Homo sapiens: one gene and its partners. The protein of the gene in region 1 interacts with the protein of each later gene in a pairwise test. Each region holds a gene or a part of one and is shown in the gene's direction. Other genes may lie near its edges. The genes, in order: ABI3, NHSL2, WASF1 and TXN2.

Region 1 (3,019 bases):
GGTGGCGCAAGCCTGTAATACCAGCTACTCGGGAGGCTGAGGCAGGAGAATCGCTTGAACCTGGGAGGCGGAGTTTGCAGTGAGCCGAGATCGCGCCATTGCACTCCAGCCTGGGCAACAAGAGCGAAACTCCATCTCAAAATAATAATAATAATAATAATAATAATAATAATAATAATAATAATAAACTTAATCCTAAGGGCCAGGCGGGGTGGCTCACGGCCGTAATCCCGGCACTTTGGGGGGCTGTGGAGGGCGGATCACTTGAGGTCAGGAGTTTGAGACCAACCTGGCCAACATGACTAAAAATACAAAAATTAGCCTGGCGTGGTGGTGCGTGCCTGTAATTCCAGCTACTCAGGAGGCTGAGGCAGGAGGATCACTTGAACCCAGGAGGCAGAGGCTGCAGTGAGCCGAGATCACCACACTGCACTCCAGCCTGGGTGACAGAGGGAGATTCCCTCTCAAAAAAATAAAATAAAGGCCGGGTGTGGTGGCTCACGCCTGTAATCCCAGCACTTTGGGAGGCTGAGGTGGGCGGATCACGAGGTCAGGAGATCGAGACCATCCTGGCTAACATGGTGAAACCCTGTCTCTACTAAAAATACAAAAAAATTAGCCGGGCGTGGTGGCGGGCGCCTGTAGTCCCAGCTACTCGGGAGGCTGAGGCAGGAGAATGGCGTGAACCCGGGAGGTGGGGCTTGCAGTGAGCCGAGATCGTGCCACTGCAATCCAGCCTGGGCGACACAGCGAGACTCGGTCTCAAAAAAAAATAAAACAAAATAAACTTAATCCTGAGAGGGTCTTTACCACTCTCCGTTAACAGATGAAGCCACTGACGCTGAGGTTCAGTGACTTGCCCAAGAGCCACCCAGCTAATAAGAGGCAGAGTCTGACCGTCCTCTACTGCTGGATCTTTCAGGGTTTACTGAGCACTTAACTATGTGCTAGCAGCACTGTGGGAAGACCAGGACAGGAGAGGGCTGGAGGAAGATTGCATGAAATGGGTGCATTCTTTTTTTCTTTTGAGATGGAGTCTCACTCTGTCATCCAGGCTGGATGGAGTGTGTTGGCAAGATCTCAGCTCACTGCAACCTCCACCTCCTGGGTTAAGCCATTCTCCTGCCTCAGTCTCCCGAGTAGCTGGAATTACAGGCGTGTGCCACCATGCCCGGCTAATTTTTGTATTTTTAGTAGAGACAGGGTTTCACCATGTTGGCCAGGCTGGTCTCGAACTCCTGGCCTCAGGTGATCTGCCCGCCTTGGCCTCCCAACGTGCCTCGCTGAGATGGGTGGATTCTGGGGTCCAGCTCTTGAGCAGTTCCCTGACACACTGAAGGAGCTTCCTGTGCCACACTTACAGCCTTTCTGCTTTTCCCCCAAGACGAAGAGCTGCCCCTGCCACTGGACCTGCCTCCTCCTCCACCCCTGGATGGAGATGAATTGGGGCTGCCTCCACCCCCACCAGGATTTGGGCCTGATGAGCCCAGCTGGGTGCCTGCCTCATACTTGGAGAAAGGTACCTGACTTCTGGGACTGAGGGGCACCGGATCCCACTTCCTCTGTTGCCCTGATCCCCATTCTCCTCCCTCTGCAAAGGTGTGAATCTATCCCCCGGGCCCCCCACACAATTTTTCTGACGAACTGACAGAACTGGGGAGAGGGCAGCTGGCCTGGTATTAAATATTAACTAAGCTGGGGAGGGGTCCTGAAGGCTTGCAAGAAGGCCCCCAAGATGGCCCCTAGAGTCTAGTACTTGAGACCGTGCATCCCCATGGTGGTGGGGGGTGAGGGGGAGAGGGCAAGAGGCATTATCTCACGGCACCCTCTTCTCTTGCCCTGCAGTGGTGACACTGTACCCATACACCAGCCAGAAGGACAATGAGCTCTCCTTCTCTGAGGGCACTGTCATCTGTGTCACTCGCCGCTACTCCGATGGCTGGTGCGAGGGCGTCAGCTCAGAGGGGACTGGATTCTTCCCTGGGAACTATGTGGAGCCCAGCTGCTGACAGCCCAGGGCTCTCTGGGCAGCTGATGTCTGCACTGAGTGGGTTTCATGAGCCCCAAGCCAAAACCAGCTCCAGTCACAGCTGGACTGGGTCTGCCCACCTCTTGGGCTGTGAGCTGTGTTCTGTCCTTCCTCCCATCGGAGGGAGAAGGGGTCCTGGGGAGAGAGAATTTATCCAGAGGCCTGCTGCAGATGGGGAAGAGCTGGAAACCAAGAAGTTTGTCAACAGAGGACCCCTACTCCATGCAGGACAGGGTCTCCTGCTGCAAGTCCCAACTTTGAATAAAACAGATGATGTCCTGTGACTGCCCCACAGAGATAAGGGGCCAGGAGGGATTGAAAGGCATCCCAGTTCTAAGGCTGCTGCTAATTACAGCCCCCAACCTCCAACCCACCAGCTGACCTAGAAGCAGCATCTTCCCATTTCCTCAGTACCCACAAAGTGCAGCCCACATTGGACCCCAGACACCCCTCTGCAGCCATTGACTGCAACTTGTTCTTTTGCCCATTGCTTGCTGTGTGTGTGGTGTGTTCATATGTGGCTGGGCACTTGCCCAAGAGTGGGAACGATCTCCATGACTTAAGCGGGGCTCTCCGAGAGCACCTCACTGTCAACTCTGAGACTGTCGCGAGAGAGATCTCAGTCATTTCTTCCCCCTTCACCTCCTTTATAGTTGTAAAACACCAGAGGAAGGAGGGGCTTGGGTTTCGCTGGTTCTGCTTAAAAACATGGCTTTCTGTTCCATGGGGGGTGGGGGGGATGCGTGGAAGGCCCAGCCCGCGAGGGTGACTTTGGTGAAGTCCCTGGTCTCTTGCTGCATAGACGAGGCTGGGATGCAAGGAGACACCGTCACTCTCTGCGAGGTTACTGGCTGTCCGGACCCGAGCCGGACGGTGCGCTACCTCGTACCACCACCAGGAGGCGATTGTTCCTCTGGCTTTTCCTTTGGGGGTGCTAGAAGGGAGTGCGGGGGTCGGGAGGCAAGAGAGTGTGGACAGCACAGAAATAGT
Region 2 (8,620 bases), on another chromosome or scaffold:
TCAGTTTGATTGTCTACATGGAGATCAGGGTGATAAGTTTCAATAAACATATAGACGCCCCCCCACCCACCCCCATTAGCTAGAAAAGACCAGGACTGGGTTGCTTTAAATGAACCAAGCTTGACCAACAAACAAGACAGCCATTTGTTCACTCAGATCTAGCCGAGGTAACTCACAAGTGCACCTTGAGATCCTCCATGTGTCTGTCAACAGCGATAGGCAGGATCTGCGCCCAGCTCATGCTGCATTCTAAGAACTCTCATTTCATTTGCATATAAAATTCATTACAGGAAGTAATTAACTGAAGGAACAGCATCATCAAAGGCTCAAGGATAATGGAAAGTAAGTGCATCTTGCCCCCCACCAGTCAATTCAGATCGTGGTTTGTGGTTGGTTTGGTTTTGTTTAAAGGAAGTCCGACTCTGTTCCAAAAACCAAGAACATATAAACTAAAAGGATCTATCCAAAATCTAAAAGGCAGTCTTGCCAGTTGCTATGGCCCATAATGCACACACACACACACACACACACACACACACACACACACACAAAAGGGCTACTTTTTGCCATTTAGGTTCTGTGTTTGACCAGCTTTCAATTAACCTTGCTGGGGGAGAGCATAAGAACCTGGGTAAATGGCATACTGAAAGAGCTTCAGAATAATCATTGCGACCCCTCCCTGCCCCCACCCCCCACGAAGCTTATAGGCACTAACTATTCTTGTCAGCTCAATTTTCTAAGCAGAGCAAGAGCAGTGATTCATTTGATTTTTGTATGCCTGATTTCTGGGAGGTTGGGGAGGAAGACAAAGCACTGAGCAAAGAAAACCTGCTGACCAATGATGGAAAGTTAATTGTCTACTGTCTTCAAGAGGCAAAAAGAACAGTTGAATGAAATTGTAGCCTGCTTCACAAAGAGAGTTCCCCAGCCCCTTCCTACTTCACCCCTCACCCAATAGATTCAATGGTCAACCTCCTGGAGGATGCAGTAAGGTTCCAGAGACAAGCAGATCTCAACTTTGATAGGTCGTATTGCCCAATGAGAAGCCACCTTTTAGCTCAACTGCCCACACTCCAGCTGGACAGAGCAGCTGAAAAACCACACTAAGTACTGAGAAAACTTGGGCCTCTCACAAGAGAAGCCCTAGGCCTAGGCCCTTTGTTGTTATAGTTCTGAATCTGAGACTTCTGGAAACAGGCCAGGCCCACCAACTCCCTTGCAACCAGCACTTCGACACTTAAAATAATAAAACAGCTAGGCTCAGTTGCTTTTGAAAGTACTAGAACTACTTGGTGTGAAGTTCTTAACCAAATTCCAAATTCCAGGGATTTTGCCCAAAATAAAATCAATTCATCCCTGGCCTCAGTTTATATATGAATGCCACATTTGTCTGCTCCAGACTTAGAATTCCAAAAAACAGACATTTTCCTCTGTAGTAAATGAAGGAGCGTTTGTGCTTTTGCTTAGCAAAAATGAAAGGACACCAGGGTCTCCTTGGGAACCATTATGACTGGTTGAACGTTAAAGCTGAGTATGGGACTCACATAGTATAGGCCTTGTTACTTCTGTGGACTTTTCTGGAAGTTTCTTGTTTACTACTTCTAATGGGTTTTGCCTCTCCCCTCACCTTGCTACCTCTGGAGGTTTTCCCAAAAGATTCTGAACCTGAATTCTCAGACACCTTGATGTTTGTCAGTTACCTTTAGTCTTGTTTTCCTCTACAATACTCTATATGCCTGGAATTTTTAGAATATCTTCTACATCATCACTGTGGCCCACGCAGTGGTGTTCCCATTAGCACAAGAGGATTTGGGGCAGAAATCATATGGTCAGAGAGAACATTTAAGACCGGAAGTATTCATTTAATTTTTTAAATTAATTTTTTGTAAAGATGGGGGTTTTGCTATGTTGCCCACGCTGGTCTTGAACTCCTGAGCTCAAGCGATCCTCTCGCCTTGGCCTCCCAAAGTGCTGGGATTAAAGGAGTAAGCCACTGCACCTGGCCTCATTTAATATTTTGCAACAGGTAGACGTCCCAAATAAACAACCAAACTGTAAAATTTCTACTAATCACTAATTAACAGAACACAAAGCATCTTCCCCACTCCTAACACTCAACCTCTCTCCTACCTTTGATTATCATAACTCCACTCTCTCTCCCACCCAGGCACTTACCACAATGTTTGCTGCCTTCTGCACCTACGCTGCTGAGACTGGAGAAGAGAGGCTGAAAGCCCCTCTCAGAAAGGCTTGCAGAGAACCCACCACTACTACAATTACTAGTATAAATAATAATGATAATAATTTTTGAAGGTGGAATAGAGAAGAGATTTGAGTGAAATGAAGTTGGCCCTAGGAGCTCAGCTTCCATTTCAAGTCGTCCCTATCCTCTTTTTTCCTCCCCATTCCAGTTAGTAGCAACAGATGGCTCTGCTAGCCTGACTTTGATCTAGTCACCATCCCCAGGAGCGGAGGTTAATTGTTAACCAAGGATGCTTTGCATTTGGTGGGTAGTCAGTACATGTTTTTGAGGGTAGTTATTCTTGGTACAATAGCAAGCTTTGCTGGTGTCTCCTCTCCTTATCCTGTACTACTTGGCCTGCCTCAGCTCCTGACTGGGCCTCCCCCACCAGCCCCAACTTATTCCTCAGCCCCAACTTATCCCTCAGCCCCAAATCCCATGAACTGCATCCCTAGCACAACAACTCACCCATAAAGGAAGTGAGACAACAGGAAGCAAAATAATTAATGTTAGCTTAATGACCACAAACTGACCAGTTGATCTGGATAAATTACCTTGAACGTGCAAAGACAGAGGAGATCCTACCAGGCTCTCCTAACAAGCACTGCACCTGACATCCAGTGTAACTATCTGGACAACACAGACCCGATTGCAGTCTCTCTGTACCTGTCAGTCTGAGCAGATCTGTCCACGCACCTGCCCTCTTCCTCATCAATGAACAAGTTGGGAAAAAGATGAGTTCATGCTCAGTGCTCTGTTCCTCACTCGTTCCACCTTCCATTATCAAGTCTGTGACACAATGGTGAGCTTTCGCTTTAATATGATTTGCTAGGGCCAGGACTAGGGTGAGGTGAGCGAGGCACCTAGGGCGTAAAATTCAAAGAGGTGCCCGCTCTCAGGGCCATGCAAGTGCCTTACCCTCGTCCCAGCCCTGTGATTTGCACTCTTTAAAGTAATATCAGTTTATCTTCTTCCTATGAACAAGTATAGTCCTTCTGATTTGGGGTCGGGGGTTAACTCCCTATCTCTTGTTGCACCAAATATTTTATTGCTACCTATTTTTCCATTGCTATAAGTCTTTGTGTGCCTATACATTAAAGAATCTTTAATAGTGTTAATATCGGAAAACATAGTTGATTTCTAAGTAATATGCTCCAGGTGGCAAGTTAACACCCATTTCAGCAGGGATGCTCCCAAGGCCAGCCCTTCAACAAAAGAGTGACTGAGTTGACGGTCTGTCACCAGGATCCTCCCTCTCCTCTTTCTGCTCCATTCTCCTAAACCTTGCTTCCCAGCACCAACTCTCTTCAGTGCCTCCTACTTCCTTCTCCTCCTAAGAAAAACCTGCTCTCAGGAAAGGGATAAATTCATTTACTTTGAGATTATAAGGCTTAATGCTACCTCTTTTGAGGGTCAGTTGCATTTTAACAAGGGAAAAGCCTTAAGCCAATGGAATGAAGTTCTACTTGCAGAATGTTAGGCATCAACTAGTTGTAGAAGTGTATTTTTCACCATGGAAAGGCCAAATTCCCTGACGCCTAACTCCAGAATATAGAAAATATCTTAATCGCCTGGAATCATTTGAGTTACTAGCTGATGGTCAATTAAATTGTCCTGATATCCAATGCTATTCAATATGGTTACTACCAAGGGACTCTCAGAAATGGCTACTAAAAGCCACTGAGAAGGCCTAGATCATTCATATTGTACATTGACATTTTTACATAAATGGAATTAATACTACTTACCATTTGAGTAAAGAACACAAGGAATTGAAGAGTCTGTGAAAATATGTCCTGTTTGTGAAAGGTGAAACTGTCCAATCCATGTCCAATCAATGTCAGTCGTCCAGTATTGGTGGTGATTATTAAACTTATTGGAGGTACAACTTTACCTCCAATAAGCTTACCTTTACAAGCTTCTGCTTTCCCTGCTTCATCTCTGTTATGGGCTATCAGTCCAGCTTGGTGTGAAAATGAGACTATATCTATACCACAGCCCCCAATCCTTTCAAAGGCTTTGCATGTATTTCAGCTACAAGTGACAAGGATATTAGGGATTTAAAAGGATAAGAGAGTGGGAAAGATGTATAAGGAAGTGCCTTTGTCAAAAGGCAGCAAAAAGTATAATGATATAAACATAATATGAAATAAGCAAATTTTAGAATACTTTGAAACAGATTTATAGAGGAATACATAGTAAATAGTTATAGACACACATTTGGGGCATTTTTAATAAGGTTAGCAAGAAGAAATTTGCATGAGTAATGAGCAATGTGAAATGGGCATTATACTTTTGTTCAGTAAAGCCCAAAATCTAGGCCAATGGTTCTCAAAGTGCAGTTCCAGGAGCAGCAACAGCAGCATCCCTGGAGAGGGAGAAAGAGAGAGAGAGAGAGTGTATGTGTGTGTGTGTGTGTGTGTGTGTGTGTGTGTGTGTGTATGTGCATTCCAGTGATGTTACTCCTTCAAGCCCCTGAATCACTATAGCCACGACTCTCCAACTGATTCCAACCTTTACCATTATTCTGGCTCTCATCATAAGGACCAGTCTCTGGCCAAGAGGTGTATATTGTTATCTTGGTCAGGCATATGTTTGCTTGGTTTTAAGAAATTATCAGATTGAGGAGTCTCATGTTTTATGGGACTCCGGTGCATATGCTCGAAAAAAATTAAAAAGAACTTATCATATTGGATCAACAAATTGCTCAACCTGCAAAATCTTTGATTAGACTTAGCCAGCCCATCTGGCCTGCTTTGGGTTTAAAAAAAAAAAAAAGATTTTTTTTAACTCACAAATGGAAAAAAGGGAAAGGTGTTAAGTTTGTTTGGTATTGCCAGCTCTTAAATACCTGTCTTTACCGTGGTGGCTGTTCTCCAGTAAGGCTCTGGCAGAAGTATATTTGATTTTAAGATTTTTGCCTAAATAGTAGAATTTGATAGCAACGAACTCCAAAACAAAATCTGAACTGGAACAACTAGTTAACCCCTCTCAGCCTCTTTGTAATGCCAAGCTTTATAGACATTTATTCCTTAGGTGGTCTTGAGCTTTTTCTAACATCCAATTTTATAAAATGTTGTGCATGCAAACGCAGCATTGTGCTCATTGTACAAGTCACCTCAAACTCATTCCTTCCCCCATGTGTATCATGGCGAAGAAATATCAATATATGTATGTGCTGAGGTCTTCTGATGAATTGTAAATTACAAACCTTTTCATTCATTTTTAAATGAGATATATTTACCCTGGCTAGTGGTTAAAGTTTTATTCTTTTTATTATATTTCACTGCTACTTTTTTCTACTGACTCCAAAGCTTACTTTGGGCTATATTTCTTATTTCTAGATTGTTGTATTTATCTTATTTCTATATTTATCTGCAGTCTTGGAATGTTAGAGCTGAAAGGGACCAACCTCTCTCATTTCACACATGAGGAAGCTGAGGCCCAGAAAGGTCAAATAACTTATATACAAGGTCACACAGTGAGTCAGTGGTGGGGCCCAGCCTCAATTCCAGGTCTCCTGCCCTTGGGCCCAATCTGGTTTCATTTAAAGCACTACAATTTATAGAAGACCCACAGCTGGCTTCTACTTTTATGACACATGAATTTCCCAGGTATTTCAATGAACTAATATATATGCTTTAAGGGAAAATGTTCAAGAGTTCTTTAATTCATTAATCCAAAGACAAATTGGATTTTCAGTTTATAAACATTAGTTTCCCTCCAAATTCAATATGTGCACCCTACTTAGTACAATGGATGTTTTCCCTAAAAGTTGTGTGAAAAATGAGTTTTTTAGATATCAAGTATCATTTTTTAGAGGTAAACTTCCTATGTAAGGGAACCTTCTGGTGACTTCTTTTTGAAAAACCGAGATTCCTCTTGTCATTGTCCCATAATGTCTCTACTTTTTTTAGTGCAAACTTTTGTATTTGGTGTTTATTTAAAAGTAGGGTACAACCCAACCAATATTAGCTTTCCCAGAGTCTACTTTAGCCTTCCCTTCTTAATCTTTATGAGAAATTTTCAGACTGTTAAATGCTCATGAGATATTTAGTTGTGTTCTAGAAATTTCACCTGGCTTGATATTCTGTCAATCCCTGGGCTCAAATTCCAGCTCCATCTTATCAAACAATAACAGAATTCCCTAATCAGTACTAAGCTCCGCATGCAGTCTCTTTTCCAGAACATTCTTTGCCTAATGTTCCTTAGTGTGGCTCTCTCTTTAGTTGGGGCCTCCTTCCTTAGTACATGCATACCTTACTATTCTGTGGAATTGCAAGCCATGCATCTTTTAGAGCCACACTAGTCAAATTGATTGGCATTTCCATTTATTTTCCATTGTTCCCTTGTTTCTCCTGGACTTCCTCTCGTTTCTCTTTTCGAGGATGCTTAGAGGCTTCTCACCAGAGATTGGTGAGGTTTCCCCCATCATCTAGATGGGAGATTGACAAATTCTGTAAAGGTTAAGACAGTAACTATTTTAGGCTTTGTGGGCTACATGTGGTCTCTGTAGCACATTCTTCTTTGTTGTTGCTGTTTGTTCATTCGTTTGTTTTGCAACCTTTGGATAATGTAAACCACTCTCTTTTTTTTTGACAGAGTCTCTCTCTGTAGCCAGGCTGGAGGGCAATTGTACAATCTCGGCTCATTACAACCTCCACCTCCCGGGTTCAGGCAATTCTCCTGCCTCAGCTTCCCGAGTAGCTGGGACTATAGGTGCGTGCCACCATGCCCAGCTAATATTTTTTTTTTTTTTGTATTTTTAGTAGAGGCAGAGTTTCACCATGTTGGCCAGGATGTTCTCGATCTCCTGACCTTGTGATCCGCCCACCTCGGCCTCCCAAAGTGCTGGGATTACAGGTGTGAGCTACCGCACCCTGCCAATATAAACTATTCTTAGCTCATGGGCTATGCAAAGCCTTAGGCTGACCCCTGATCCAGACTGTCTTCTGAGACAAGCATTTCTGTGAGCTGCCCCATGTGATAACTGAGTTGTGCAGTAGCTGATGTGGTTTATTGCCTTCCCATCTACTGCATTGTCAGACCAGACTGACTGCACAGGAGCAGGTGGAGGGGGGCTGCATATGCCAACCATTACTCTTCAATAGAGTGTCCTTCATGAGCTCTCTCTCTCTCTCATTACTGACTACCTCAGTGTAGAAACCCTCATTTTTTTCCCCAGACCTATCCTTGTTACCCAATGTGCCTCTGCTTCCCTGGGTTTGGGATAAACTGGAAGGAGAGAATTTCTGAGTTCTCTTACTTATTTTGTTCCATAACTTCTCCCTCATATCTGTGGTTGGAGACTCCCACCCTTGTCCACCCTTTCCTGCCTCATACTAGTATCATGAGTTTAGGGCTGTCGTTGGAAAGTCTGGCAGCCCAGGCCATAGGATTCCAGTTCAGCCTACGATTTCCTAGGGAAATCACCAGGTTCCAAAGGCTGGTTTTTAAACCTAGAATATCCATGTATCCATTTCCTAATGCAGTTTGGACCTGTTCTAGACAGAGCACTCAGCCTTAGCAAGAAAACCAATGAGGTGCAGAAGATATTCTGTGCCCACAGTTTTTCCCTGCCTTCTGGACCCTCAGCCCCTGGGATGGGCTCCTTGGGATTGCCCATGCAACAACACAGCCACAAGACATTCAGCACACCACCTCCTCCTGTGTTTTGAATCTCTAAATGAATTCTGTTCTAAAGCTTCTTCACGTCTCTCTCCATCCTGCTCCCATCTCCACCTCTAATGCTTCTTGGGAGTCTGAAGCTCAGATTCACATTTTCACATTTTCTCGTATAAACGTTGTGGGATAAGAATGGATGATATGTATGTGTCTGTGTGAGTTTGGTTTCTCAACCTGGACTGTGAGGGCTAATTCACAAATCACACCATACATGCGTGTGTGCATGCGCGCGCGCACACACACACACACACACACACACACACACACAGTCCAGCACCCTCATCAGTTCTCTGGTTTAGGTCCAGATCTGATGGGACTGGTCAAGAAGGGGATGGTGGGGGCTCCTGAAGCATTTGCCCTTTCTTGCCTCTTGAGACCTTCTTTCCATTGGCAATTCAAAACAGGCTGACATACAGAGGGCTAGCACTCTAATTTGATGTGGACTCAGCCACTCAGACCTAGGTCTCAGGCTGCAGCTTATCCTAGCTCAGCAAATTGCTTCTTAGAATCTTTAGCTTGATTTCTGTCATTTGAGCCCAGGGATCTACCCACTTACTGAAATCTAAATTTTAAAAAATCAGTGATGAAAGTAATTTTCAGGATTTCCCTATTTAAAAGCATCCATGAAACAGTTCCTTTATGCCTTCTGTTTAGGATTTCCAGAATTAGGAAGGGAAACCAGGCTTGTGCCTT
Region 3 (8,620 bases), on another chromosome or scaffold:
AGCAATTCAACTTTATCTTGTAGTGTTATGACTTTCTTGTACTTGAGAGTACTTCCAGCATCACTGGTGGCACTTTGAATGAGTCTCACAATGTATTCAAGGTTTACAGTATTGCATAAAACATGATGGAAAATACACAAGAACCATGAGAGATTACTTCCTACTCTTATATGCAATTTAGTGGAGAGAGAACTGCTCAAACAGCATTTTAAGTGGATAGTAACAACACTAGAGCTAACTGCAGTATCAACAGAGGGTGGCTATAAAATTGTTACAGTAATACAGTATTACACTTAAATTTATTGTTATGATTTAGTACTATTAGGTTGGCAAAAACTGCAATTACATTTGCACCAACCTAATATATCTTTCCATTTCTTTATATTTCTCTTGACTGTGAATGGCACTATGTATGTTTTTGTTTTGTGTGTAAATTTTGATAAATTTTAACTTTTTATAATTTCTGTATATTTTGTGGTAGTAAATGATAAAATAGTCTAGTATTTACATAGATTTTATGCATTCATATCTTTAAAATATACTTTAAAATTTTTAGTATTTTTAGGCTATGTGGTTCATCTGCAAGTTTTTTCAAATTGTCTCAAATCTCCAAAATTTTCAATGTATTTATTGAAAAAAATCCACATGTAAGTGGACTATTACAGTTAAACGATTTTGTTCAAGGGTCAACTGTAATTCCAAATAAATTCCAAATTCAACAGGTCACCAGTTGTAATATTACATTGTTCATTATTTATCTCTGATCACAAAGTATCTGAGGGCAAATATCATGCTAGATTTCTACTGCTTGCAAAGATAAAAACTCAGTGCTCTGGATGTTAAATTTTATGATATATGTGTCATTTTTGCTTAGGTAAATATGCTGAAGATATATTTGGAGAATTATTCAATGAAGCACATAGTTTTTCCTTCAGAGTCAACTCATTGCAAGAACGTGTGGACCGTTTATCTGTTAGTGTTACACAGCTTGATCCAAAGGAAGAAGAATGTAAGCTTATTAATATTGTATTTTCTTCTACGTATATATTTTAAGTTAGATGAGATGAATGATATACTTAACAGTATTAATCATGAATTTATTACAGATCATACCCATGTCCTTTGGTGTACATATTGTAATAAATCAGTGAATTATCTAAAAATGCCATCAGTATGATTCTCCGGGCTTTTCTTTTCTACTCTGTTTTAAATCTCTTCTTTTTGTACACTAAACAGCTCCTAATTTTTTTGCATAAAGAAGTCATTTTAACCAGACATTTTCCTCCATTCTCTTCATTATCTTTCTCTTTTCATTTCTCCCTTATAATTTATTTGTATACTTTTGTCTTAGAAATAAAAATTATTAGAAAATTACCTGAAATCTTTAGGTTTGATTCTACAAGAATGTAACTGGTTTTTTTTTTGTTTTTTTTTTTTTTTGAGACAGACACTCTGTCACTAGGCTGGAGTGCAGTGGCGCAATCTCGGCTCACTGCAACCTCCACCTCCCAGGTTCAAGCAATTCTCCTGCCTCAGCCTCCTGAGTAGCTGGGATTACAGGTGTCTGCCACCACGCCTGGCTAATTTTTTTATTTTTAGTAGAGATGGGGTTTCACCATGTTGGTCCGGCTGGTCTCGAACTCCTGACCTTGTGATCTGCCCACCTCGGCCTCCCAAAGTGTTGGGATTATAGGCATGAGCCACTACACCTGGCTATGTAACTGCTTTTAATATGCTTTTGTATGTGCATATTGCTAAAGTCTTATTAGTTATTTAACTGAATGCAACTTCCTACTTTAAATGAACATTTCAAAAACAAATTGCCAGTATGTAGGGTGTAAACATTCTATACCAAGATATTAAATCAGGAATAATCAGATAGGCTAAAATAATTGTAGAAACTTCGGTGGTAAAATCATGTTTTATGCCTTGATAGAATACATTGAATGCCGACGTTTCCCAAATGCATCTTTTTGTTTGTTTCACAAAAAGAAATGCAATACTAAGAACATAATTTGCACTTACCTACCACAGAGAATTGTTTAATGGAATTTCTTACACTCTCTTCAAAATATTTTTGTTGCATTAAATAGTATAAACACAAATTATATGATAGATCTAATTTTTAGTATAAATGCAAATTATATAATAGATCTAAACTTTAACAATAAAAATACTAAAGGATGTCAGTGGAAAGAACAAAAATATAATGTAATGATAGATGTCTTAGTGATGGAACCAGCTACTTTTGAAATAATCCAATGTGTAAATAAGGAGAGGCAAATACTTGGCATACTAGATTTGTACCACTTGTAAAATGTAAACTCAGAGCTCTGGATACAAGAAGAAAAGGAAATAATACTTAAAAAATAGCTTTATTAAGATATATTTCACAACCTACGTATACCTTGCAGTTCACCCATTTAAAGTTGAAGTGTACAATTCAGTGTTTTTTAGTATATTCAAGTTATGCAACCGTCACCACAATCAATTTTAGAGTATTTGTATCACTCCAGAAAGAAGCCCTGTACTCATTAGCAGTCACTCTGTTTCCCCTTCAGCTCAACCCCTAGCAATCACTGATCTTTCTGTCTGTATGGATTTGCCTCTATGGATTTGTCTGTATGGATCTGTCTGTATGGATATTTCATATGAATGAATAGTACAGTATGTGGTCTTTTGTGACTGGCTTCTTTTAGCATAATGTTTTCAAGGTTCATTCATATAGCATGTATTTATATCTCCCTGATGGCTAATGATGTTGAGTATGTTTTCATGTGCTTACAGGCCATTTGAATATCTCCTTTGGAGAAATGTCTATTTAATTCCTTAGCCCATTTATAATTTGTATTATTCGTGTTTTTATTTTTGACTTGTTGGAATTCTGTGTATATTCTGGATCTAAATCCTTTATCAAATATATGATTTGCAAATATTTTCTCCCCTTCTTTAGGTTGTCTTTCTTGGTGGTATCCTTTGAAACATGTGCATGTATCAATACATTAATTACACCTCATGGAATTCTTGAAATAAAATCATTGTTAGTGGTGAAAAATATTTTATGGTCATGCTTTCAAATACATAATTTATAGCCAAAATTTGTTTTTCAGATAACTCAACTGCTTATCACTTAAATATAAATTTATGCCATCAAATAATAGAGAAATACACAGGCAGTTCTCATATGTAACAGAAATAAAAATCAACATTTAGTTTCAAAATATTGTTACATTTTAACAAATGTCTTAGAGCCACCATTAAACTTGAAAGTGAAAATACAGATAACAGTAAATAAATTAAGATGTTTGTGTTAAAAAACAAATTTTAATATGTCAACAGCTATACTGTCAGAATTATACCTAGTTTCCTTTAAAATTTTGTGGAGCAGTGGGGGAAGAATTCAGAATCTAAAAGCTGAACTACTTAATTTGAAATTGTTTTGGAGAGGTTGTATTGAAGGAGTTTTCAGTTATTTAACCTAGGTTTTTTAATTCAGTGGGAATTAAAAAAAAAACATCATGTGTACAGTACTAAATAGCACAGTGTGGTATCAGTTTTTTTAACCGTTTTGTAGTAACTAAAAACTATCAATTTTGAAAATATTTTTTAAATGAATTTTAAACAAAGACTTGTACAATTATATTTAAGTCAATTATGTTTATAAGCATTATGCTAATTTATTGCTTTATAATTCTATTTTATTAATATCAGATGTTATTGTTGGCAAGTGGAAGGAGCTTCACCACAATAGTCTGTTAATAATAAGACAAACGATAAATGAGAGGAGTTGAAGATAGAAAAGTACATCATGCTTATTAGTTTACATGTTTCTTACATCCTTTACCAAGGAAGTTTGGCGAGATTAAACACTAGGTTTCATCTTAATTACATACTTATTGATTAATAAGTGGGGCAGGAGAGTGGCAAGAATTGATCCACTTTGACTGCAGAAAACACAACCCACTTCTGGCAGGAGCCTGAGAACAGCGTGTGGTATTGTGGCAAAAAGATTAGCCTCAAAGGTAGACAGATCTGACTTTTCTGTTCTGGCTCTGCTGTTTATTAACTGTTTAACCTCAGGTCAGTTATATACTATTTCCTAGCCTTAGCTTTCTTATATTTCACAATGGAGTAATAATTCCTGTCTTACTGAATTGTAAAGATTAAATGAAATGAAATTTAGTGAAACCATCTAGCACATATAGTATGTACTCATTAAATACTGTATCTCCAGTGCCACTTTTTAGTGATAGTGGGGAAAAACTTTTTGCTTCTCTGAATTTTATTTTAGTATTTATAAGTGTGTTACAGGTCATGCAGCAGTGGAATTGCTAGAAATGGAATTATGGTGCCACCATTGCAGAGCCAGCCTATTGTACCTTCTGTGCCATTGGTCCCATGTTCATGTTGAGTGAATTTACTTGAGGGGATGACAGGAATATTATTTTAAGGAGAAGGATAACTTAAGAATTGTTGGCTGGATGTGGTGGCTCACACCTGTAATCCCATCACTTTGGGAGGCTGAGGCGGGCAGATCATGAGGTCAGGAGTTCAAGACCAGCCTGGCCAACATAGTGAACCCTCATCTCTACTAAAAATTTAAAAAAAAAAAAAAATTAGTCGGCCATGGTGGCAGGTGCCTGTAGTCCCAGCTACTTGGGAAGCTGAGGCAGGAGAATTGCTTGAACCCGGGAGGAAGAGGTTGCAGTGAGCCGAGATCGTGCCACTGCACTCCAGCCTGGGTGACACAGCGAGACTCTGTCTCAAAAAAAAAAAAAAAAAGAATTGTTAGGATTGTTATACTGACCTTGCTATGTTATAGGGCATTTGTCTGTATACTTAAGGCCATATTAAATATCAAGAAATTACCTTATTTTTTAATATCGGGATATCAGTGTAAGAATTAAGAATGCAGCATTTTTGTATGTTTTTTATTTTAACATGCTGCACAGTTCAAAATAAATGAAGTTGTTTTTAAATCATGTATGTGATGGGGCTGTGCTAGTGACTGGGAATACTAATGTACAAGATAGTCTGAGTCTTCAAGAGCTTATAGTTAGGTAGAAATCCTTATAGTACAGATAAAAGATAAGTGAAAAAGAGAATAATATAGATCACCTAATACTTAAAAGTATTTCCTTTACAGTAAAGTTTGTTTTAACTTGAGAGTACACATACAATATTTATAGTATATGTAGCATAGAGGTTAACAGCGTGTTTAGCCCACAGTGCCACTAATAAGTAATTCCTTTCAGAGTTACTGGTGTAAGCTAAAAAAAGGAATAAAGGGAGATGGAAAAGAAGATTATAGGAGAAGAGAACCTAAGTTGGTGGGGGCCCATGATGGCAGGTAGAAGAAAGAAAAAGGTATATTTGGTTGAAATGTAGATATGTTTCAGGTGTCATTAGGGCCCTCTGAGCCTTCAAAATCAAAGGTTAATTAAAACCTATCTGATTGGGAAAATTAGGCGCAGAATGATATGGGTAAATATAATGATAGAACATTTAAAATATGGTTTCTGATTCATAAGCCACTAAGGTCACAACCTCTTGAGCCATGCTGACTTTTAGACAAATAAAGTATGTGAATTTGCCCTTATGTTAAATCATCTTAGTAAAATAAAATAAAATGAATTCTTGATTTTTGTTTTAGTGTCTTTGCAAGATATAACAATGAGGAAAGCTTTCCGAAGTTCTACAATTCAAGACCAGCAGCTTTTCGATCGCAAGACTTTGCCTATTCCATTACAGGAGACGTACGATGTTTGTGAACAGCCTCCACCTCTCAATATACTCACTCCTTATAGGTAGGTAGGTTAATAAATAGTAGCCCTATTATTTATCTCAGACTTCAGATTGAAATGCTAAATCCCCAAACATTCTTTATTTCATTGGGGTTCTAGCCAACACAGAGAGCCCTCTCTGTCCACCACCTTTGGAAAACCTTTGCTTTTATTCATTGGATGAATTCTTAAGATTGTGGCATACAAAAGACAAGACCTATTTAAAAGAGTTGTTTTTACAAGTTTAGAAAAGCCACTGGTAAACTTATTAATGTAAAGAGATAAGGAGTTATTATTGTCCTTTTAATTTAATTTTTAATCAAATGGAAAAAGCTCAAAATTCTGTCCTACTAACAAAATAAACATAATTTTTGCTTGTTTTGTCTACTCTTTTTTTTTTTTTTTTTTTTTTTTGAGGCGGAGTCTCACTTTGTCACCTAGGCTTACTGCAAGCTCTGCCTCCCAGGTTCATGTCATTTTCCTGCCTCAGCCTACCGAGTAGCTGGGACTACAGGCGCCTGCCACCAAGCCCGGCTAAATTTTTATATTTTTAGTAGAGATGGGGTTTCACTGTATTAGCCAGGATGGTCTCGATCTGACCTCGTGATCCACCCGCCTTGGCCTCTCAAAGTGCTGGGATTACAGGCGTGAGCCACTGCGCCCGGCCTGTTTCGTCTACTCTTGATTTGATTTGTATACATTAACTTCTTACATAATGAATAGGTAGTACCTTTATAAAATGCTTTTTACCACTTAGAATAAAATCTGGAATTATTTAGCCTTTCTTTGAAGTTCTTTCACATGGTTTGTTAAATGGGTAATGTACAACACAACCTGAATAAAATAGTATTCAGAGAGTTATTTGAAATTGTAAGTCAGTGTGCAGATAATTAGATATAAATGTGACTGTTAGAATGACTATTACATGATATCTTTTGGATTTAGTAAGATAATAAATAAATCATAGTATTGGCAGAAACTGCAAAATTTCTGTCTTCTAGATGATGTTACTGTCTTTTCAGGCTTTTATCTTTGGCAGAGCTATTTGTAATTATTGGAATTGCCCAAAGGACTTTTTAGAAAATTTGGGATTCAGCAGAAATTAGGGATGAAAATTGCCCAGCTATACTTTAAATTGTTAGTACTAACTTGGAAAAGCATCTGCTTTACCACTTTTCTTTGTTTCCTCATATTTGTGAGAAATTTTCTATTGGTGCAATATTCAGTTTTATTTTGGCACTATTTTAACATGCTGTATTTTATTAATGTAAGAGGATAAACATTTTAGTGAAATTATTTCTATTCTGATTGCCTAAGTCTTACTAATGTGTGTTTTAATTGATATTTTATATTTCAGAGATGATGGTAAAGAAGGTCTGAAGTTTTATACCAATCCTTCGTATTTCTTTGATCTATGGAAAGAAAAAATGTTGCAAGATACAGAGGATAAGAGGAAGGAAAAGAGGAAGCAGAAGGTATTACAAGAGATTAAAAAATTGAGGTTAATTTTTGTATATTTGTGTTTTGTTGCATATATTGAACTTCATTAATCTTGTATTTTGACAGTTTTATTTTATTGGGTCCATATAGTTAAATACTGAAGTCTTTATAACTCCACAGAAAGAACACAGTCTGATGGGGAGCAGATGAGCAATTAGATTATTAGAGTAGGGCATAATAAGTGCCATAGCAGAGGTATGCATAAAGGGTTTAGATAACACAAAATAGCATCTGCTTTAGCTAGCAGGCAGGGTAAACCCTTCCCACAAAGCTTATAATGAATCTTGAAGAACAGATAGGAGTTAGGTGTACCAAGGAAGAGAGGAACATTTTGGTAAGGAGCAATGGAATCTTGTACAGATATTGGTAACGTAGATTAAGCTAGTATTTTGTTGCTACAGAGCACATCCTAAACATTTCTCTCCTAAATGTTTTGGAGAGGTTATTATATTCACATGAAATTTCTGTTATTGTCATTTTCCACTTTCTAATAAAATTCACTTGTATCTGCTTTATATTTCATGTTAATGATAACTGAAAACACAGAAGGATGAAGCAAAGTTAGATTTAGGTTGAATTATGAAGGAGGCAAATTCTGTCTTTATCATCTCTCTGGTTCTCCTGTAGCTATCTCTGCTTTCCCTAATCCCTGTATAATGCCATTGTATTGTCTTCTTTGCTAGATGGTAACCCAGTGTTCTAGCTAACATTTGCAAATTGGTGACTGGCAAGCCAGATTATGCCTGTAGGGAGTGTTTTGTTTGCCAAACACAGAGGTTTTTAAATTTTGGAACTAGAGTGCCTGAGATGGACATGTCTGTCTAGCTCACCTCATGCCCCATCTTACACCCGACTGGCTTCATTCATGTATGTTATCCGCTTGGCCGCTTTGGGCGTTTGAATTTGTTACACTTACTCTAGCCCTTTCTGTACTTTCTCCCCCAGTTTTGAATCACTTTTTGTTTTATTGTTTAAAGACAATGTTTTCTGTTGAGTGATATAGTTATTATCGGTTAATTAGATAATTGGATTTTTTTCTAATGTGTTGGCTAGCTAATCAGTTACTTCCCAGATAACATAACCTTAGTAAATTGTTACGTTTTGATTAGGGGCAGACAATGCCATTCATCGTAGAAATTTCAAACTAATGCCTGTGGAGCAAGGGTTCATGAGTCTTTTTTCATCTGAAAGACTTTCTGACCTCAAATTGTATTCTTTAGGCATACTGTTTTGTGTCTGGTGCATCAGTTCAAATTAGGGGTTAAACAAAACATGGCAGGAAACTGGGATTACAGCAGACTGGCTAAGATTTAACTGAATGTACAAGTAAACCATTT
Region 4 (9,205 bases), on another chromosome or scaffold:
GTATTTCCTTGGTGGTCAGGATATTCTGGGGGTTGAAAGTGTGCATGAATGCAAGGAGCCTCCAGCAGGTGGGGCTAAAGGATAGGCGAGACATCTCCAACAGGGGAGATTGAGCTTAACCAGGACCCAAGATGGGAAATGCCCCAAGTAAGGTAAGAGATAAAAAGGAGAAAGCTAGCAACAGTAATATTCCCCCAGGCCTAATGTTAAAATGTTAGAAGGATAATGAAAGGACCAAAAACAAAAGCAGCTGCTGTCCCAGACCCTTCTCCTATCTCTGATGTCCCCTTTCTTACAACCCTGCCTCTTGAGAATCGTCCCAAGAGCCCACTCACTACCGACCTAAGTACCTTTCCCTTAAAGGACTTCAACGTGAGATAGAGCAATGTAAAAAAGATATTCAGAATTTCCCTTTCCCCTCTTCTCGGGGGAAGAAAGAGACATGATCCATAGAGCTGCTATGGGAGCCTAGGAACACGAACACCCTCCTGGCCAAAACGTTCCTACAGCAGATCAAAAAACTCCCACCCAAGACCCCCAGTGGGACAATAACAACGCAGCCCACCGAGAAAATATGCAGGACCTTAAGGAATTGATAATAAAGGGGATTAAAGCATCAGTACCCCGAGGCTGGGCGCAGTGGCTCACGCCTGTAATCCCAGCACTTTGGGAGGCCGAGGCAGGCAGATCACAAGGTCAGGAGATCGAGACCATCCTGGCCAACACAGTGAAACCCCGTCTCTACTAAAAAATACAAAAAAATTAGCTGGGCATAGTGGCAGGCGCCTTTAGTCCCAGCTACTCAGGAGGCTGAGGCAGGAGAATGGCGTGAACCCAGAAGGCGGAGCTTGCAGTGAGCCGAGATCACGCCACTGCACTCCAGCACTCTAGCCTGAGCAACAGAGCAAGGCTCCATCTCAAAAAAAAAAAAAAAATTGGTACCCCGAACTCAGTATCTTACCCGAATATTTGATATACAGCAAGGGAAAGATGAAGGGCCTATAGAATTTTTAGATAGATTAAAGGAACAAATGAGAAAATACACTGGTCTAGGTCTCAAGGATCCTCTTGGGCAGGGAATGTTAAAACTTCATTTTGTCACTAACAGTTGGCCAGATATTAACAAGAAATTACAAAAGATAGAGAACTGGAAAGATAAACCTATAGAAGAGCTTCTAAGAGAAGCCCAAAAGGTATATATAAGAAAAGATGATGAAAAACAAAAGCAGAAGGCAAAAATTCTGCTGTCTACCATACAACAAAGTACCCAGGGGGCCAGAACCTATAAAGAACCTAGACTGAGGGCTGGGCGCGGCGGCTCACGCCTGTAATCCCAGCACTTTGGGAGGCCAAGGCGAGCGGATCACGAGGTCAGGAGACCAAGACCATCCTGGCTAACACGGTGAAACCCCGTCTCTACTAAAAAAAAGCAGCCGGGCATGGTGGTGGGCGCCTGTAGTCCCAGCTACTCGGGAGGCTGAGGCAGGAGAATGGCGTGAACCCAGGAGGCGGAGGTTGCAGTGAGCCAAGATCGCGCCACTACACTCCAGCCTGGGCGACAGAGCGAGACTCCGTCTCAAAAAAAAAAAAAAAAAAAAAAAAAGAACCTAGACCCCCACTCTCCAGGCAATATATAGAGTATGAAAGAGTAAAGCCAGGAGACTCAAAAGTAAAGAAAAAAAAAACTTAGAGGAGAGAGAAAGACTGACAGAACAGACAGAGTCAAAGAGAGAGAGACAGGCAAAAAGGGAAAGAGAGAGGCAGAGAGAAAGGCAAAGGGAGAGAGTCAAAGAGGAAGAGAGAGGCAGAGAGAGAGGCAAAGAGAAAGAGTGAGAGAGAAAAAGAGGCAGAGAGGGAGAGGCAAAGGGAGAGAAAGAGGACAAAATAAATGTTTCAGATTAAAAATAGGTCACTTCAAAAGAAAATGTCCCAAATGGGAAAAAGAACAAAAGTCATATATAAAAGCAAATCAGCTAATATTAAATTTCTGTTTATTCCAGAGGCAGGAACAAACCTATTAGAGAGATTTAATGCTAAAATTTGGCTTAGGCCTCTATATTAATCAGGGAAGATTCCTCCCCTCCCTAAACTTGCTCCCCACCACAGACAAAGAACTCATTCATCCCAAGGTATGGTCAAAAGACGAGAATCGAGGAAAGTTACAGATTACTCAGTTTCATGTTAAATTACAAACCCCTGGGGAAGTAGTAAAGAGAAAGCAATGTATCCTATTCCTTTCAAAGCCGAGGTAAATTTAAAACCTATAATTGATAATTGAAGGTCTTCTCCGTGATGGATTTCTTAAACCCTGTATGTCTCCCTATAACATTCCAATACTGCCTGTAAAGACGCCAGACAGGTCATACCGGTTAGTGCAAGACCTTAGAGCTATTTTTTTTTTTTTTTTTTTTGAGACAGAGTCTTGCTCTTTCGCCCAGGCCAGAGTGCAGTGGCACTATCTCGGCTCACTGCAAGCTCCGCCTCCCGGGTTCACGCCATTCTCCTGCCCAGCCTCCCGAGTAGCTGGGGCTACAGGCGTGTACCACCACGCTTGGCTAATTTTTGTATTTTTAGTAGAGATGGGGTTTCACCATGTTGGCCAGGCTGGTCTCGAACTCCTGACCTCAAGTGAACTGCCCGCCTTGGCCTCCCAAAGTGCTGGGATTACAGGTGTGAGCCACCACGCCTGGCACCATGTTTGTTTTTTTAAAAAGCAGATCACCACCCACTAAATTAATTTTGCAAACCCACTGACGTCCATATCCTGCAGTTTGAAAAACACTGCAATAAATATTGGTAGGAGGTAGAAGTTTTACCCTTAGCCCAGGCTGCCAGTCCTGGCTTCCTTCCCTTTGCCTCTCAGCTGTGCCCTGAGCCTGCTTGTGACTAAGCCAGACCCAGGCCAGCTCAGCTCTAGCTGGACAGAGGAGCCACCATGTAGCTGAGAGCCCTTTTGTAGCGCGCCGAGAGCTCAGCCTTCTCTGTGTCTCTCAGGCTTTCCCTGCAGGAGTCATCAGGCAGCAATGATGTGGATTCTGTCTCTACTGCAACCCTCAGCCCAGCTATGAGAAAGGCATTCTTCCCATTGCTCAGATGAGAAGCCTGAGGCCGATCAGGGTGAAGTGACTATGGCATAAGGACAAACAGGACTGGTCCGCCTGTGAAATTCAGAATGTGAATTAGGCAGGAAAATTGGCTCTCTAGAAAATACTGTGGAAGTGCTGAATAGGATTGATAGGTGGCTGTGGAAAAGAAAGTGCTAGAGACACAGAAAACCGATACAAAAATGGGCAGGGCGGCCAGGCGCGGTGGCTCACGCCTGTTATCCCAGCACTTTGGGAAGCCGAGGCGAGCGATAACTTAAGGTCAGGAGTTCGAGACCAGCCTGGCCAACATGGTGAAATATAAAATTTCTGTACCAAAAATATAAAAAATTAGCCAGGTGTGGTGGTGCTCGCCTGTAATCCCAAGTACTTGGGGGGCTGAGGCAGGAGAATCCCTTGAACCCTGGAGGTGGAGGTTGCGGTGAGCCAAGATCATGCCACTGCACTCCAGCCTAGCTACAGAGCAAGACTCCGTCTCAAAAAAAAAAAAAAAAAGGCTGGGTGCAGTGGCTCACGCCTGTAATTCCAGCACTTTGGGAGGCCCAGGTGGGCAGATCATGAGGTCAATAGATCGAGACCATCCTAGCCAACATGGTGAAACTCCGTCTCTACTAAAAATATAAAAATTAGCTAGGCGTGGTGAGGCACGCCTGTAGTCCCAGCTACTGGGGAGGCAGAGGGAGAAGAATCCCTTGAACCCAGGAGGCAGAGGTTGCAGTGAGCCGAGATCGCGCCACTGCACTCCAGCCTGGGCAACAAGAGCGAGACTCTGTCTCAAAAAAAAAAAAAAAAAAAAAAAAAACTTTGATCAACAATTTGGAAACTGCCTGTTCTTTTAAAAACGCTCTTTCAGCTGCTGCTAATCCGAGTGTATATTCAGGACAACTTGAATCTCTGCTCCGAGTTGCAGTCTTCGAACTTGACCCAAAAAAACTCCCTGCTTAAATTAGGCTCGCCTCAGTTTTCATTTGTTTTCCTTTAGGCGGACACAGACGAGGGCCACTTAAAGGATGGCCCCTAAACTCCCGGTTGAGTTCTTTTACATATAAAGGGCATCATGCCTTTGAGGAGCTTAGCTTTACATATTAAATGGAGAAACAGAACCTGTCAACATCTGTAGGAAGTGGACAGCGCCAGTTATAAACAGGAGGCCAGGCAAGGTGGCTCACGCCTGTAATCCCAGCACTTTGGGAGGCTGAAGCGGGCGGATCACTTGAGCTCAGGAGTTCCAGACCAGCCTGGCCAACATGGCGAAACTCCGTCTCTACTAAAAATACAAAAATCAGCCCGGCGTGGTGGCGCGCGCCTGTAATCCCAGCTACCTGGGAGGCTGAGGCAGGAAAATCACTTGAACCCGGGATTTGGATGTTGCAGTGAGCGGAGATCACGCCACTGCACTGTAGCCTGGGAGACAGAGCGAGACTCTGTCATTAATAAATAAATATATGTAAATAAAATAAAGCAACAAGAGTTTGCAAAATCCAAAACCACGGGGACTTCTCAACTGCCTTTTCTCCCTTAAGTACCCTCCATTGCTACCCCTGCTCCATCACCTCCTCTTCCGGTCCCTCCTCTAGGGCCCGCCCACCCCTTCCGTTTCCGCCCCGCCCCGCCCCCGCCTTCGCCCAGACCAGGGCCCGCCCGCCTCTTCCAATCCGTTCCCCGACGGCCTGCCCATTGCTTCCGGTCCGTAGCTGAGGCCCCGCCCCTTCAACTGTGCCTCAGCCCGCCATTCCCATTGGCGGAAAATCCCAGACGCCCCTCAAATTGGAGAGGGACAGATGGGCGCTGTGGCTCACGCCCGTAATCACAACCCTCTGAGAAGCCGAGGCGGGCGGATCACGAGGTCAAAAGATCGAGACCGTCCTGGCCAACGTGGTGAAACCCCGTCTCTACTAAAAATAAAAAAATTAGCTGGGCGTGGTGGCGCGCGCCTCTAGTCGGGAGGCTGAGGCAGGAGAATCGCTTGAACCCGGAAGGCGGAGGTTGCAGTGAGCCGAGATCGCGCCACTGCACCCCAGCCTGGCAACAGAGCGAGACTCTGGCTCAAAAAAAAAAAAAAAAAAAAAAAAAATTGGAGAGGGACGCTCTTCCGCCTGCCTGTACCCGGAAGTGACGTTATGTACGTCCCCCCCCGAGGAAGTGACGACAGGCGTGCCCTTGACAGGCAGGGAGGGCTAGGCTGTGCATCCCTCCGCTCGCATTGCAGGGAGGTAGGAGCCCTGTGGGGGTGGCTCGAGGTGGTGTCGCGGCTGAGGCATGCCGCGAGCGCGTTCCTGCGCAGGCTGGCGGCCGGGCGGGCGGGGGGATCTAGCTCGCCGGAGAGCCAGGGTCCCTGGTGATGTCCGATTTTTCCCAGTTCCCTCCACACATGTCCCTTCTTTATTGGTTCCCTCCAGTACATGTCTCTTCGTTTTTGGTTCCTCTCACACTCTTAGTTCCTCCTTGAATTGTTGCGTTTCATCTTTTCAGACGACCCTGGGTTCCAGTGTTGGCTGTCATTTAATAGCGGGGTTACTTTGGGCATGTCACTTAACTTACTTGAGCCTCGTATTCCTTCCCTTACTCGCAGTGTGGGCAGTACAATAGCAACTTCCTGGAAGTTGCTGTAGGAAGACCAATAATGTGTGTAAGGTACTTGGTCCTTACATACATTATTAAATCTGTTGGTTTCTTCCTCCCATTCTTCCGTTATAATCTAAATCCCGATTTCTTTTTGGTTGTGAAGCCAGTTTTCCTGTCCTTCTGGTTTGCCTAGCTGTTCCTTCCCTTTGATTCTCATTGCTTCCTCACTTCCACGCTACAAATCTTACATATGATTTCCTTGCATTTTGCTTCCAACTCTGCCTCTTCCTGAGCCCTGAGTACTCCCCAAATCTTTTTCTAGTGTGTCGACTTCCTTTTGTGTGCCCCAGTTCTTCTGCCTCTTTCCCTCACAGATGGCTCAGCGACTTCTTCTGAGGAGGTTCCTGGCCTCTGTCATCTCCAGGAAGCCCTCTCAGGGTCAGTGGCCACCCCTCACTTCCAGAGCCCTGCAGACCCCACAATGCAGTCCTGGTGGCCTGACTGTAACACCCAACCCAGCCCGGACAATATACACCACGAGGATCTCCTTGACAACCTTTAATATCCAGGATGGACCTGACTTTCAAGACCGAGTGGTCAACAGTGAGACACCAGTGGTTGTGGATTTCCACGCACAGTGAGTATTGGGGGTCCACAGAAGACTAGGGTCCTACTTGTTCAAGTATTTATTGAATGCCTGCTGTGTCCCACGGCCATGTTCTATGCTGCTCATATGTAGACTCAATATACAGACTGGTCAGGCCCAGTCCCTGCCCTCAAGGGGAATGCAGTCTGGTGGAAGACAGACAAGTGAACAGTCTGCAAAGCTGACTGTTAGTGCTGGGAAACACATGTTCTGTTTCTCAATCCCCAGAAAGCTCAGCGTCATCTTTAGCATGGACCAGAGTTGGAAAAATATGACTGTCACCTTGCTTTTGGTGTATACCAGTTCCTGGCCCTGCAGATAAGCTGATGTTAACATCCTGCCATGAAAACCGCAAGAAGGGCTGGCAAAAAGTTATCAGTGTCGGCCGGGTGCGGTGGCTCATGCCTGTAATCCCAGCACTTTGGGAGGCCAAGGCGGGCAGATCACCTGAGGTCAGGAGTTCAAGACCAGCCTGGCCAACATGGTGATACCCTGTCTCTATTAAAAATACAAAATTAGCTAGGCGTGGTGGTGTGTGCCTGTAATCCCAGCTACTCGGGAGGCTGAGGCAGGAGAATCACTTGAACCTAAGAGGTAGTGTTTGTAGTGAGCTGAAGATCGCGCCATTACACTCCAGCCTGGGCAAAAAGAGTGAAATTCCATCTCAAAAAAAAAAAAAAAAAGTTATCGGTGTCACTACCGTGGTGCCCAAGCATACAGGGCATAGGAAGGAGTTTCCTTTCAGTGCTATCTGAGTTTGCTTTAGAGATATTTAAGTCCCTCTGGCCTTCTGAATTTTAGCCTGGGCTTTTTCATTTCTAGATCTTTGGGGCCTGGCTAGACACCCAACTACACAAAAGCTGGACAAAGCCCTCTGAATGAGGCATCCTGGGAGAAACCAGTGTAGCATAAGTTAAAAATTCAGGGGCCTTCAGGTCGGACGCAGTGGCTCACACCTGTAATCCCAGCACTTTCAGAGGCCGAGGCAGGTGGATTACCTGAGGTCAGGAGTTTGAGACCTGCCCAGCCAACATAGTGAAACCCCATCTCTACCAAAAATACAAAAATTAATCGGGCGTGGTGGCGGGCACCTGTAATCCCAGCTACCCAAGAGGCTGAGGCAGGAGAATCGCTTGAACCTGGGAGGTGGAGGTTGCAGTGAGCTGAGATCGCGCCATTGCACTCCAGCCTGGGTGACAGAGGGAAACTCCATCTCAAAAAAAAAAAAAAAGAAAAAGAAATTGAAGGGCCTTCTGGTCAGGTCTCTGACAGATTGTTTCGCTGGCTTTCCAGTTGTTTCTCTGACTCACCCTGTGGCCTTGGGCAGGCCACTTGATATCTTTGTGCTCCCTTTCTTCACTTGTAATAGGAGATAAGGTCTTGCACACTGGGTTTTTCAGTGTTATGAGTTGTTTTTGTTTTTCTTCTTTTAGAGACAAGGTCTCACTCTGTCACCCAGGCTAGAATGTAGAGTGCAGTGGTGCGATCACGGCTCACTGCAGTCTCTACCTCCTGATCTCAAGCAATCCTCCCACCTTGGCCTCCCAAAGTGCTAGGATTACAGGCATGAACCACTGCGCCAGGCCTGAGGGTTTTTTTTCCTTTTTTGTTTTTGAGACAGAGTCTCATTCTGTCACCCAGGCTGGACTGCAGTGGTTCAGTCAGCTCACTGCAACCTCCACCTCCCGAGTTAAAACAATTTTCCTGCCTCAGCCTCCCAAGTAGTTGGGACTACCACCCAGATAATTTTTTTGTATTTTTAGTAGAGACGGGGTTTCACCATATTGGCCAGGCTAGTCTCTCAAACTCCTGACCACAGGTGATTCTCTCCCGCCTTGGCCTCCCAGAGTGCTAGGATTACAGGTGTGAGCCATTATGCCCGGCCTATTTTTCAGCATTTAAAACCGTCAGGCCTGGCTGGGTGCGGTGTGCACCACCACACCTGCTACTCAGGAGGCTGAGGCAGGAGAATTGCTTGAACCCGGGAGGCGGAAGTTGCAGTGAGCCGAGATCGCGCCATTGCACTCCAGCCTGGGCAACAGAGTGAGACTCCATCTCAAAAATAAATAAGTAAGTGCTGAGAATAAAATAGGAGTTGTCAGCCAGGGGTTTGTGAAAGGTGGAACTGTCTTGGCCTCCTGGTGTAGTGAGCATTCCAGAGAGGCCTTCCGAAATGAACAATAAATGGGATAATGCCTCATTTTGTTCAGTAAGGAAGTGGGGTGGTGTGAGTTGTTCATTCAGTGCCAGGCACTTTCCTTGGTGCCACATACATAGAGATGACAGCACCAGGCCTGTCCTGGATGAGCTTCCCCAGCGAGAGGGGAATACCTATGATCAGGGCAGTGATAATGGTCAACTCAGGGGCTGTGGGATCAGAGTAGCCTGTGGGTGAAATAAAACACTTTCTCTTTTTTTTTTTTTTTTTTTTTTGAGACAGAGTCTCTGTCGCCCAGGCTGGAGTGCAGTGGCACAATCTCAGCTCACTTCAACCTCTGCCTCCCAGGTTAAAGTGATTCTCCTGCCTCAGCCTTCCTAGAAGCTGGGATTACAGGCGCACACCACCACTCCTGGCTAATCTTTGTATTTTTAGTAGAGACGAGGTTTTACCATGTTGGCCAGGCTGATCTTGAACTCCTGACCTCAGGTGATCCGCCTGCCTCGGCCTCCCAAAGTGCTGGAATTATAGGCGTGGGTCACCGCACCCGGCCAAAGAAAACACTTTCAACACAGCTTTGGGTTGTGATCGATCCCAGCTGTGCTTCTCTAATCTTGCACAGGTTTCTTAACTCGTATGGGCTTCAGTTTCTTTGGAAGGTGTGTTCTCTTTGCAGAGTTGAGGGGTGTGTTTGGTAAAAGCAGAGAAAGTGAGCCAGGGACTGGTGCGTTG

The links.
Region 2: the proteins of ABI3 (region 1) and NHSL2 interact in binary tests that used the Homo sapiens proteins (3 or more experiments, as listed by UniProt).
Region 3: the proteins of ABI3 (region 1) and WASF1 interact in binary tests that used the Homo sapiens proteins (3 or more experiments, as listed by UniProt).
Region 4: the proteins of ABI3 (region 1) and TXN2 interact in binary tests that used the Homo sapiens proteins (3 or more experiments, as listed by UniProt).

The regions. Positions count from the first base shown.
Region 1 is NC_000017.11:49,220,707-49,223,725, forward strand, and holds the end of ABI3 (ABI gene family member 3), read left to right. Parts: intron 1-1,363; coding exon of another isoform or gene 1,364-1,384; coding exon 1,385-1,519; intron 1,520-1,845; coding exon 1,846-2,009; 3' UTR 2,010-2,519; downstream 2,520-3,019. UniProt on the Homo sapiens protein: May inhibit tumor metastasis. In vitro, reduces cell motility.
Region 2 is NC_000023.11:72,144,197-72,152,816, forward strand, and holds part of NHSL2 (NHS-like protein 2), read left to right. Parts: 3' UTR 1-8,620.
Region 3 is NC_000006.12:110,105,715-110,114,334, reverse strand, and holds part of WASF1 (actin-binding protein WASF1), read left to right. Parts: intron 1-874; coding exon 875-1,009; intron 1,010-5,653; coding exon 5,654-5,807; intron 5,808-7,140; coding exon 7,141-7,258; intron 7,259-8,620.
Region 4 is NC_000022.11:36,477,676-36,486,880, reverse strand, and holds the start of TXN2 (thioredoxin, mitochondrial precursor), read left to right. Parts: upstream 1-5,240; 5' UTR 5,241-5,317; exon of another isoform or gene 5,318-5,738; intron 5,739-6,043; coding exon 6,044-6,306; intron 6,307-9,205.